2 separate regions of the Homo sapiens genome follow, and region 2 is linked to region 1. Evidence: fine-mapped expression QTL. A gene starts in region 1. The other region holds a variant in brackets. All regions are shown on one strand. Distances are between the middles of the regions.

The links.
Region 2: its variant is fine-mapped to the expression of PDE6C in breast (GTEx, PIP 0.94).

What each region holds. Positions count from the first base shown.
Region 1 is chr10:93,609,986-93,615,373 of GRCh38, forward strand. PDE6C (phosphodiesterase 6C) reads left to right here and starts at 2,552. Exons shown (of 22, transcript NM_006204.4): 1 at 2,552-3,220. The coding sequence starts at 2,741.
Region 2 is chr10:93,695,530-93,700,917 of GRCh38, forward strand. It overlaps FRA10AC1 (FRA10A associated CGG repeat 1), which reads right to left. Exons shown (of 14, transcript NM_145246.5): 2 at 4,501-4,577; 3 at 2,772-2,867; 4 at 2,607-2,652. The coding sequence starts at 4,577. Among named protein-coding and RNA genes, the nearest start is that of FRA10AC1, 4.4 kb to the right of the region's middle. The variant A/G (reference allele first, on the strand shown) is at 2,706.

The DNA of each region.
Region 1 (5,388 bases):
ACTCCGGAGGCTGAGGCAAGAGATTCGCTTGAACCCGGGAGGCGGAGGTTGCAGTAAGCCAAGATCGCGCCTGGGCAATAGAGGGAGACTCCATCTCAAAAAAACAAAAAAGAAAGAAAGAATGAACAAATGAATGAATCTCTAACTAGTTATAAAAACAAAAGAATGCTGACTATAATAGGATGTTTCTTTTTCAAATTAATATTCACTTTTATAAGATTATGAAAGATGGGCCGGGCACGGTGGCTCATACCTGTAATCCCAGCACTTTGGGAGGCCGAGGCGGGTGGATCACGAGGTCAGGAGATCAAGATCATCCTGGCTAACACAGTGAAACCCCGTCTCTACTAAAAATACAAAAAATTAGCCGGGCATGGTGGCAGGAGCCTGTAGTCCCAGCTACTCGGGAGGCTGAGGCAGGAGAATGGCATGAACCCAGGAGGCAGAGGTTGCAGTGAGCCGAGATCGCACCACTGCACTCTAGCCTGGGCAATAGAGCAAGACTCTGTCTCAAAAAAAAAAAAAAAAAGATTATGAAAGTTGAACATATATGGGCATTTTGTTTTTTCTTTTTCTATTAAGTATAAGTCTGTATATGAAATGCAAATATGTGTTTTTCCCTCTCTGTTTCAAGAGGGAAGGATGAAACCAGGAAATCGTGAGCACACCACATACTTACAGGAGAAGTAGGAACTGTACCATGAGTCACACAAAATAACTAGGTAAAAAAGAGTGTCCAAAATTGTTAGATAAGGAAGATGGTCCCATAGGAGGGGTGACTCAGTTGACTCAACTCTCTCCTGGGAAATACACTTCTGCATTATCCTATTTATAATAACAGGGTGTTATGAAGTAAATAGTCACCCAAAGAGGAACCTCCTGAGAGTAGAGTTGAGTGTGACATAGGACAGTCCAAGAAAATATGTGCACCTGACAAGGTGCTTTGAGGTAGCAGGTGAAGCTCAATCACAAGAAGTGGCATAACTCAACAAATGACTCTTTCTGTACCCCTGGGAAAACCATGTTTCCCACCAAGAATCTCTCAATTCATGACAGGGAATGTGCAACCTCAACGGATCTCTCTTTCTTTTGTGACTATTAAGATTACTATCTCTCAGGCTGACACAGGTGGATCACCTGAGGTTGGGAGTTCAAGACTAGCCTGGCCAACATGGTGAAACCCCATCTCTACCAAAAATACAAAAATTAGCTGGGCGTGGTGGCACCCACCTGTAGTCCCAGCTACTCGGGAGGCTGAGGCAGGAGAATCACTTGAACCTAGGAGACGGAGGTTGCAGTGAGCTGAGATCGCACCACTGCACTCCAGCCTGGCAATAGAGCGAGACTCAGTCTCAAAAAAAAAAAAAAAAAAAAAGAAAAAGATTACTATCTAGAGAGGTAAATCTTAGAGAACTCAATGAAACTCATAGGGTTTCTATTTTTGAAGCAAACTTAAATGTGGGTGTAACAATAATTTTTAGAGTCACTGTAACATGTGTGTGTTTTCCACTTAAGAGAATTTGTCATATTAGGTTTGTAGCTTTATTGAAGTGTTTAAAACACCTTGACTAAGTTTGAAACCAACATTTAAGTATCGAAGGCAATTGGTTCATGAATTAATAGTTTGAATTATTAGTTGCATAATAGTGTTTAAATATTTGAGGAAATGTGTTTAATAGATGTAAAAGCTTAGTAAAGTGAACATTAAACAAAACTAAGTAGTGGTAAGTGTTCTTTCTATGCCAGTAGCCCCTGAGACGTTAAGGATCCTAGCAACAGACAAGATATCTATCATCTAGTAGATTTAGTAGACTGTATGTTGTAGCAAAATCGCATGACCTCTGGCTATTACTATTGAAAACAAAATCCTAACTAAGATACTTAGCAGAAAAACCCAGCCAGCAACTATGTAGGTTACCTTTTGTAATTACAGTCTCTCGACAAGGGTTATTATTCAATTCATGACTTGATTAGGTTTGGATCATTGGCAAATATTTTGCTATGTTCACCTCTTTAGTAATAAGCTTGAGGTTTACTCCTTTAAAACACTTCTGAGGTCAAGCTTTCTGAAGTGACAGGGATTGAGAGGTGAAGGTTCTAGAGAAAGAGGAGGCCAAGCAACCTTGGTGATCAAAAGACTTTTAAGAAAAGGAAAGATTAATATTCACCTTTATGTTGCAGTGATGCAAACTGTTCCATATCTCCCAGATGTTCATTACAGTTGCTATATAAACAAAAAAAATCCAAGCACTTCCGAGGTCTAAATAGTTTTACTTCCTATAGCTATCATACAAGAACGATTCAAAGTGCCAATTGTTGCCAATGTCGTGTCATTCATGGATATGTCAGTGATTCTTCCTTGCTGTGGACAGCAGCCGACATTCAGTTATTTTTCTGGAATAGACACCTCAGCTTGCTACTTGCTGGGCTGATCTAAGATACTCTGAAGATTCGCTAGGGACTTATGAGCTACTAATGCTCAGGGATTTAGTGTCCTGAAGAACTCTTTAATCCTGTGCTTCCTGAATCCCACCCTAAGCCAGGGCCTTCTGTCACATCCCAAGAGTTACAGGCAGTTTGAAAGCTCTGCTTTCTGCTTGACCTTTGGAAGTCCTATGAGGGACCATTTACGGTTTCCTCAGTAATTTCCACCAGGATGAATTTCCTTCTCATCACTCTGCCTCAGGTAGTGCTCTGAAGGTCGTCCTTTCTGAACAAACGCAGCAAAGCAAGCCACACCATGGGTGAGATCAACCAAGTTGCCGTGGAGAAATACCTGGAGGAGAACCCTCAGTTTGCCAAGGAGTACTTTGACAGGAAGTTGCGGGTGGAGGTGCTGGGAGAAATCTTCAAGAACAGCCAGGTGCCAGTCCAGTCCAGCATGTCCTTCTCTGAGCTGACCCAGGTGGAGGAGTCAGCCCTGTGCTTGGAGCTGCTGTGGACCGTGCAGGAGGAGGGGGGCACCCCAGAGCAGGGGGTTCACAGGGCCCTGCAGAGGCTGGCCCACCTGCTCCAGGCTGACCGCTGCAGCATGTTCCTGTGCCGGTCCCGGAACGGCATACCTGAGGTGGCCTCTAGGTTGCTGGATGTCACCCCCACCTCCAAGTTTGAGGACAACCTGGTGGGCCCTGACAAAGAAGTTGTGTTTCCATTGGACATTGGGATAGTGGGTTGGGCTGCTCACACGAAGAAAACTCATAATGTCCCAGATGTGAAAAAGGTAGGTGGCCTTATGACAGTGGGGCAGAGGTCTTGGCAGGGTCAGGGAGGAACAAATGGGAAAGAGAGATAGTGCTATCCTTGTGGCATTAGTTTGGCAATAACCGGGGGAATGTGGGTGGCAGGGAAGAGGATCACCCAGGCCTAGTGTTGCCAAATTTAGCAAATGAAATTTCAAGTTGCCCAGTTGAACTTGAATTTCAGATAAACAATGAATTATTATTTTCTGAAGTATAAGTATGTCCCATGTAAAGTTTGGCATTTTATCAGGTGATCCTACCTGGCCCTGGTGCATTCCACACACCCTCCCTTACGCCTCCTCCAGTGCTCTGGGGGACTTTCCTTCTCAGCAACACCAGCAAAACAAACTACCCCACTAGGGAGATGGGCCAACGTGCCCAGATGCCAAGACTTGTGAACTGCTCCCCATGCCTCTCATTCACAGTCCTTCGAAAACATTCAGGTTTTTTGGATGGATTTGCTAGTAAATCAATTCTTTCATCTATCGACCAAATGTGCAAAGAGAAAAAATGATGCCATTTGAAAGTTCAGATGTTCAAATTTGGAATTCATTACATATGTGAATTTAGGTGATGGTTAAGTGCAATTGACCACTCCCACTGCTCCATAACCCAGATCTTTCAAGAATGAATTCCAATCAAGTAAGTGGGACATTTGGACCCTCTTGAAGACCAACAGCATACTGCACAAATACAAGGCATTGAGATGCCCCTTATAGAAATAGAAAAACTTTATTCTTACCATTAGAGTACATGTTCATTTTTAAACAATTATAAGATACAAATAAACCAGAGGAGGAAATGCTAATCACCCATCATCCCTCCCCTCAGCAATAATCAAGGGTACCAGCTTGGAGATTCTCCTGGCAGCTCCTTCTCTACACATGTGGTCCATTATTACAGTTTACCATTAACAAAAAGGGAAAAGTGGATTATGATGGAACAGAGTTGAATGGGAACAACTTGTGAAATGCTTTCTGTGCAGGGGTGTATAGGGCAGCTGGAGAGGCAGGAGGATAATCTCCTAAATGCCTCCTGAAGCTGATTATAGGGGGAGGGTCACACGGACCCAAGAGGTGTGGAAGTCATCAAACACGAGTGACTCTCTGCAAACAACCACAGAACACCGCTCAGGTGCAAGGGTTACCATGGGGCCTGGTAGGGCTTCAGTCCTGAATAATTCCTCCTTTCAGTAAGTTTAAGCTGGGTTAAGTTTGCTTTTGAGCCTGACTGCAGCTGCTTCAAGTGTCTAAATGGATGCTCATCCTTAGGGCAAAGTTCTCTAGACAACCAACTGGAAGGCAATGTCTGCACATCCTGAGGTTTTTCTCATGGGAATACGCTCCTTGAGGGTCCCCAACTGAGCCCATCCCTGCTAGCACATCAAACTTGAAAAAGTGACATTCAGCAATTTTTTGAAAGGCTTTTAAAGAAGAGATGGGTAAAATGATTTCTGCTGTTATACTTTGATTAGCCCAGTTCTCTGTGGTGAGAAGGAAATAAGAGCATGGAGCTGCTTGGAGGTGGTTTTGGTCTGCGGCTGTCCATGGTGAGCATCACGGCATGGACGGAGCACTTCATCTGGGAGTGGGGAGTCTCTCCTCTCTTCTCTGGAGGACTCCTGGCTGTTCTGGGTGGGACACAGAGAAATGTGTGTTGAAGACAGATACGGTTCTGTGCTCACGAGAAAGAGACCTCATTGGTTCTTCATTTCAACTGCTTCTTCACATTTTTTTCTCTCTAGAGTGGGGATTCCAACTCTGGCTGTACATTAAAACCATATTAAGCTGTGTGCAGTGGCTCACGCCTGTAATCCCAGCATTTTGGGAGGCCACGGCGGGTGGATGGCTTAAGCCCAGGAGTTCGAGACCAGGCTGGCCAACATGGGAAACCCCCGTCTCTACCAAAAATACAAAAATAAGCCAGGCATGGTGGTGTGTGCCTGGAGTCCCAGCTACTTGGAAGGTTGAGATGGGAGGATGGCCTGAGTCTGGGAGGCCAAGGCTGCAGTGAGCTGTGTTCACACACTGCACTCCAGCCTGGGTGACAGAATGAAACCCTGTCTCAAAAAATAAACACAATCCACAAAACCATATTGGTGGCTTTATTGTTACAGCGGACTCTCAAAGATTAGAATTCAGGCATTAGT
Region 2 (5,388 bases), 86 kb after region 1:
GAGCATTTTACTTTTTGTTTTAAAAAGCTCAACAGCACTCTCTCTAGAGCCAAACATGCACATAATAGCTAACCTCACCTTCTACAATATTCTCTGTGACTATTAAACATGTATAGTGATTTAACTGATCATAATGTGTACTAACAGACAATTTAATCAGATTATGGTATTTCCATATTGTAACAAACCAGTTAATATTTCAGGAAAAAAAAAAAAGAGAGAGACAGAAAAACCAAATACCTGGAGATCTGGATTCTAGCTCTTGATCTACCACTAACTGGTCACATGACCATGGCAAGTCATGTAACCTATTAGAGCTGGGGTCAGCAAACATTTTCTGCAAACGGCCAGATGGTAAATATTTCAGGCTTTGCAAGCCATATGGTCTCTGTTGCAAATGCTCAGTTCTGCCATTTTAGCATGAAAGCAGCCAAAGACAACATATAAATGAAGCATGGCTGTATTCCAATATAATTTTATGTACAAGAACAGGTGGTGGGTGTAACTTTTGCTTCCGGGAAGATGGAGTAGGCAAAGATGTACTTCTCCCTATTCCTCATACTAATAACAACTAAAATCCTTATACATTATATATCAAACATAAAAAGACTCTAAAAGGTGGAAGGAAGAAGGCGCCCCGCTAGGGACCTCCTGAAGACCTATGGTATGACATGATAGCGAGTTCCCTAGGTTTTCTTTTTGTCTCATGTATCCTAGAATTGGAGGTAAAGAAGGTGACAACCCGGAAACACCAACAGGCACGGACTAAAAAATCGTCAACAAAAGCTGTTCTCTCTAACCAAATGACCAAGAGTCAGCCTAGCAAGACAACTTTGAGACAATAACTACTCTACTCTTGTCAAACAACCCAGAGAAAACTGTGGTTCCCAGTCAGAATCGCAATTATTAAAAAGTCAGGAAACAACAGATGCTAGCAAGGCTGTGGAGAAATACGAACACTTTTACACTGTTGGTGGGAATGTAAAATGGTTCAACCATTATTGAAGACAATGTGGCAATTCCTCAAGGACCTAGAACCAGAAATAACATCTGATCCAGCAATCCCATTACTGGGTATATACCAAAAGGAATATAAATCATTCTATTATAAAGATACATGCACATGTATGTTTATTGCAGCACTATTCACAATAGCAAAGACATGGAACCAATCCAAATGTCCATCAATGATAGACCAGATAAAGAAAATGTGGTACATATACACCATGGAATACTATGCAACCACAAAAAGGAATGAGATCATGTCCTTTGCAGGGACATGGATGAAGCTGGAAGCCACCATCCTCAGCAAACTAACACAGGAACAGAAAACCAAACACCACATGTTGTCACCCATAAATGGGAGCTGAACAATGAGAACACATGGACACAGGGAGGGGAACATCACACACTGGAGCCGGTGGGCGGGGAAGGGTGAGGGTGATGGGTTGATAGGTGCAGCAAACCACCATGGTACATGTATACCCTATGTAACAATCCTGCACGTTCTGCACATGTATCCCAGAATTTAAAGTAATAAAATAAAATAAAGAAAAATAAAATAAAATAAATCCTCACACACAAAACAAAAAACAAACAAACAAAAAAAACTGTGGCTCCAACTCCTCCTATGCCAGAAAAAAGAGTACCCATACTTTCACTCTCACCAGGCTATAACTAGGTGCCCCCAATGCAGTAGGTGTCAGAGAAGGCAGAGCAAATGTTTAAATGCTAAAGGAACAAATGGCAGATGAGATCCATGGAAAAGCTAGCTATTGGGTTAGGAGATAAGAAGAATAAATCAATTAGTGACACAATGGTACTTCTATAACTTAAAAGAAAAATATTGGAATAGCACAGTGAAACAGATGATTACAGGTAGGGGGCGTATCAAATTGACACTGTCTCCTTCTCCCAATTCTGATCACAGCAATAAATACCCAAAAATACTTCAGTTTTTGCTTGGTATCTCTTAAATTCTCCAATATTCTCAACAGCAGTATGGATGGCCAGCGTAGCAGTTAGTGTCATCAGCCAGTCTTATTAAAAAACTGAGTTGACAAATGGCTATAACCAGGAAGCAGGGTTTATCTTAAAGATAGCTTTAAGTCATGCCTAAAAATTAAAGCCATGGCAGGCCTGAGGACAGTCCACAGGCAGGCCTCATTTTATTTTTATTTTTTCCTTAGATCCAGGGACAGACTGGATAGACCTAATTTTAAATACAAGTTTTATAGAGACCTTAAATAGCAAAGAACCAGGTAGGAAGAGAATAAATTAAAATGAGACTAAAGATAAGTATAGGAAAAGGAAATGTTGAAAGCTTGAAAAAACAATTTGGAAAATATATTTGCAGATTCATGTACTTTATAAACCTATTTATAGAGTACTAGTAATATGTTTTATTATTTTTGTCTCTAAATCTTTCCTATATATTAGTAAAAGAGAATTGTACCCAAAAGTATAAATGGCAAAATCCTACATCACTAAATACTTATCTTTAAAAATAAAAAAGCCTATTTGACTTCACAAGATTTTATAAAACAAAAAAGCAGATTTTAAAATATTCTACTAGTTATAAAAATCTGGAAATAAAAAAAGGATACAGCATCCATAGCTATGAGATGAAACCTTCTATTTCTTGCTTCTTCCCTGTTAAAACAAATTTTTTTAAGAAAATTCAAAATGTTTATATTCAAATTAAC[A/G]TAATCAAATCCCCTAATCCGAAGCAACTTAAACCAAGAAATAGAATTGACACTGAAATACCATACCTATCCAGCAATTCTGCTGCAACTTGTTTATGGGCCACCTTTCCATGTTTTTCTTTCTGAAATGGTTTTTGGAGCAGTAAGTCATCTTCAACTGTCCTGATATATTAAGAAGAAAATAAGAGTTCACTTTTTTCAAAGGTTATTTTCTAATTCTTTATATTTTCATAACTGGAATATACTTTAAAGAATGTAAGTCTTAACTTTAAGAAGACTCACTGATCTTTAATGAGATATTTTACATTTCCTTAAATAGCTTAATTAATACCTTAACATTATTTTAATACCTATAACACGGGGAAGATGAAACTAACAAAAGCATGGACTCTAGTGTCATATCACCTAGCTTCCTGATTCAAATCCTAATTCTGTCAATTACTACCTTAATCTTAATAAGATTCAATTATTTATCTCTTTGTTTCTTCATTTCTCTATCTGTAACATAGTGATAAGGAAGTTTTTGGTAATTAATGATACACAAAAAGCAAGGCTGATTATAGAGAACACAAACCACAGATCCAGCTCGCCCAACCCATGGGCCTCATGTGGCCCAGGATGGCTTTGAATGTGGCCCAACACAAATTTGTAAACTTTCTTAAAACATTAAGACACTTTTTCACATTTTTTTAAACCTCATTGGCTATCATTAGTGTATTTTACGCAGGCCCAGCACTGCTTCAGGCCAACAATGTGAACCAACAGATTCACAATTGTGTGTGCTCCACTGTAGTACGTGGCCCAAGACAATTCTTCTTCCGATGTGGCCCAGGAAAGCCAAAAGACTGGACACCCTGCCATAGACTGTCAGCCCTAGTTATAGTGATGAATATAATCCTGGAGCAGAGTATCCAACTAGATTTGCTCAAATTCTATTCTTACAAAGTAGTATTTTTGAATGAAAAATCTAGAAAATGTAAAGCATCAAAAATGTAATTTATTATAATTAGTACTATCCTTTATTGCAGAGACTGAGTATCCTATAAAAATGTTCAGAACCTGTTAGTATGCCTAATATATTGCTCTCAGTGTGAAATAATAAGCCAATTTCTATACATTTGCTTAAAAAAATCAGTCAACAGCCGTGTAAGTTTGGTTAGTATACATCAGTCAACCACTCCTGAGTCAAAGTATAAAACTGAGTTTCTATGCACTGAAAGCTAAGAACAATGCTCCTACGCACAGCAGCTCCACCAAGACGTATCCTGCTTATAACGCACAGGCTTTATGTGCTAAGAGTTTTTGTCTCTTGCAATTCAAAAAAACCTTCCTTGAGTTTCTTCCCGTGACCTTAGTCTGCTCATTCACGTATGCGTAAGAACTGTGCTGCATTATACTTTCATCCTCCATATTAACTTCACTTTGAAGGCAAGTAATGGCAAGAGACCACCATTCAAGCCCCTTCTGAGCTACAACATTTACAAATAAACAGTCCTTGACAGTTGAATGAAAAATATATGTAATGAAAAGGTTTCACTGATTTCTGAAAAGATTCCAGAAATCTGAAACTCTTCTTTCCCTTTCAATAAACCCCTTTGCAGAATTAATTTTTATTTTTCCCACAATTGTTCTCCAATTTTTAATCAATGTATTAGCTTAATGAACAAAAATTCATTCACTAGAGCAATTGTCTTCACATGTAAACAGAATTCAAAAATTTCACTCTTGTTTATTTATACTTCATATTAATCTAGAAAGGATGTGAAAAATAGATCAATAAAAAAAAATTACTTACCTTTTTTTCCTTTTGCTGGATTCTCCACAGCGTTCATCATCACTAAAATCAGAATCATAGCCTCCATGACCATGCATCTGTAAAGGAGTACAAAGTCAGCTATTTAGAATCTATGTTGCCAATTGTCCAGGAAACAATAATTCAAAAATAAGTTATCTTAAACAGCCACAATAGTTTTAAAGGATCATTGTGGGCAGATTCCTATTCACAGGCCATCTAGCCATCTAAAACTTTCATTCGCTTTTAAATAAGAGACATACCTTTCAGGAAATGCATCAACATTTTTCACCCTTAATTATCATTAGGTGAACAAAGAAGGCTACTCTTTGATCTTTTCACTGAAAAACCAGGCCTAAAAGCTGCAGTGACTGCTTACAAGGTTTAGCAATCCTTCACTTTTGATTCAGAGTAGTAATAATCACTGTGTGTTTATCACCAACTTTGTTCTAGACATTGTGTTAAATACTTTACAAACAACACTTCTAATTCTGCAAGTTAGAAAGTTATCTTCATTTAGGAATGAAGTAATCAAAGTTAAGTAAATCTATTTACAAATCCAGTAAGTGGCTAATCTGCTGTACTTGATTCCTGCGCCCACAATTTCAATTACTCCAAATTTCCTCTCTGGAATATGATTTACTATATTCCAGGAGAATTACAGTATTTGTGAACAGTACATCATCAATTGATGAAAATTTTCCTGTAATCTTTTTCAATATATGTAGAGATTTCCATTTTCTTTTGAGTTTCTTTAAGGTAAACCACCTTGCCCTTTGGATTAGTCAGCTTTCTCTTGTTTCATTTTATTTATCCAGTTATTTTTGGAGAGTCTCGCTCTATTGCTCAGGCTGGAGTGCTGTGGCGCCTTGATGGCTCACATCCTCAACC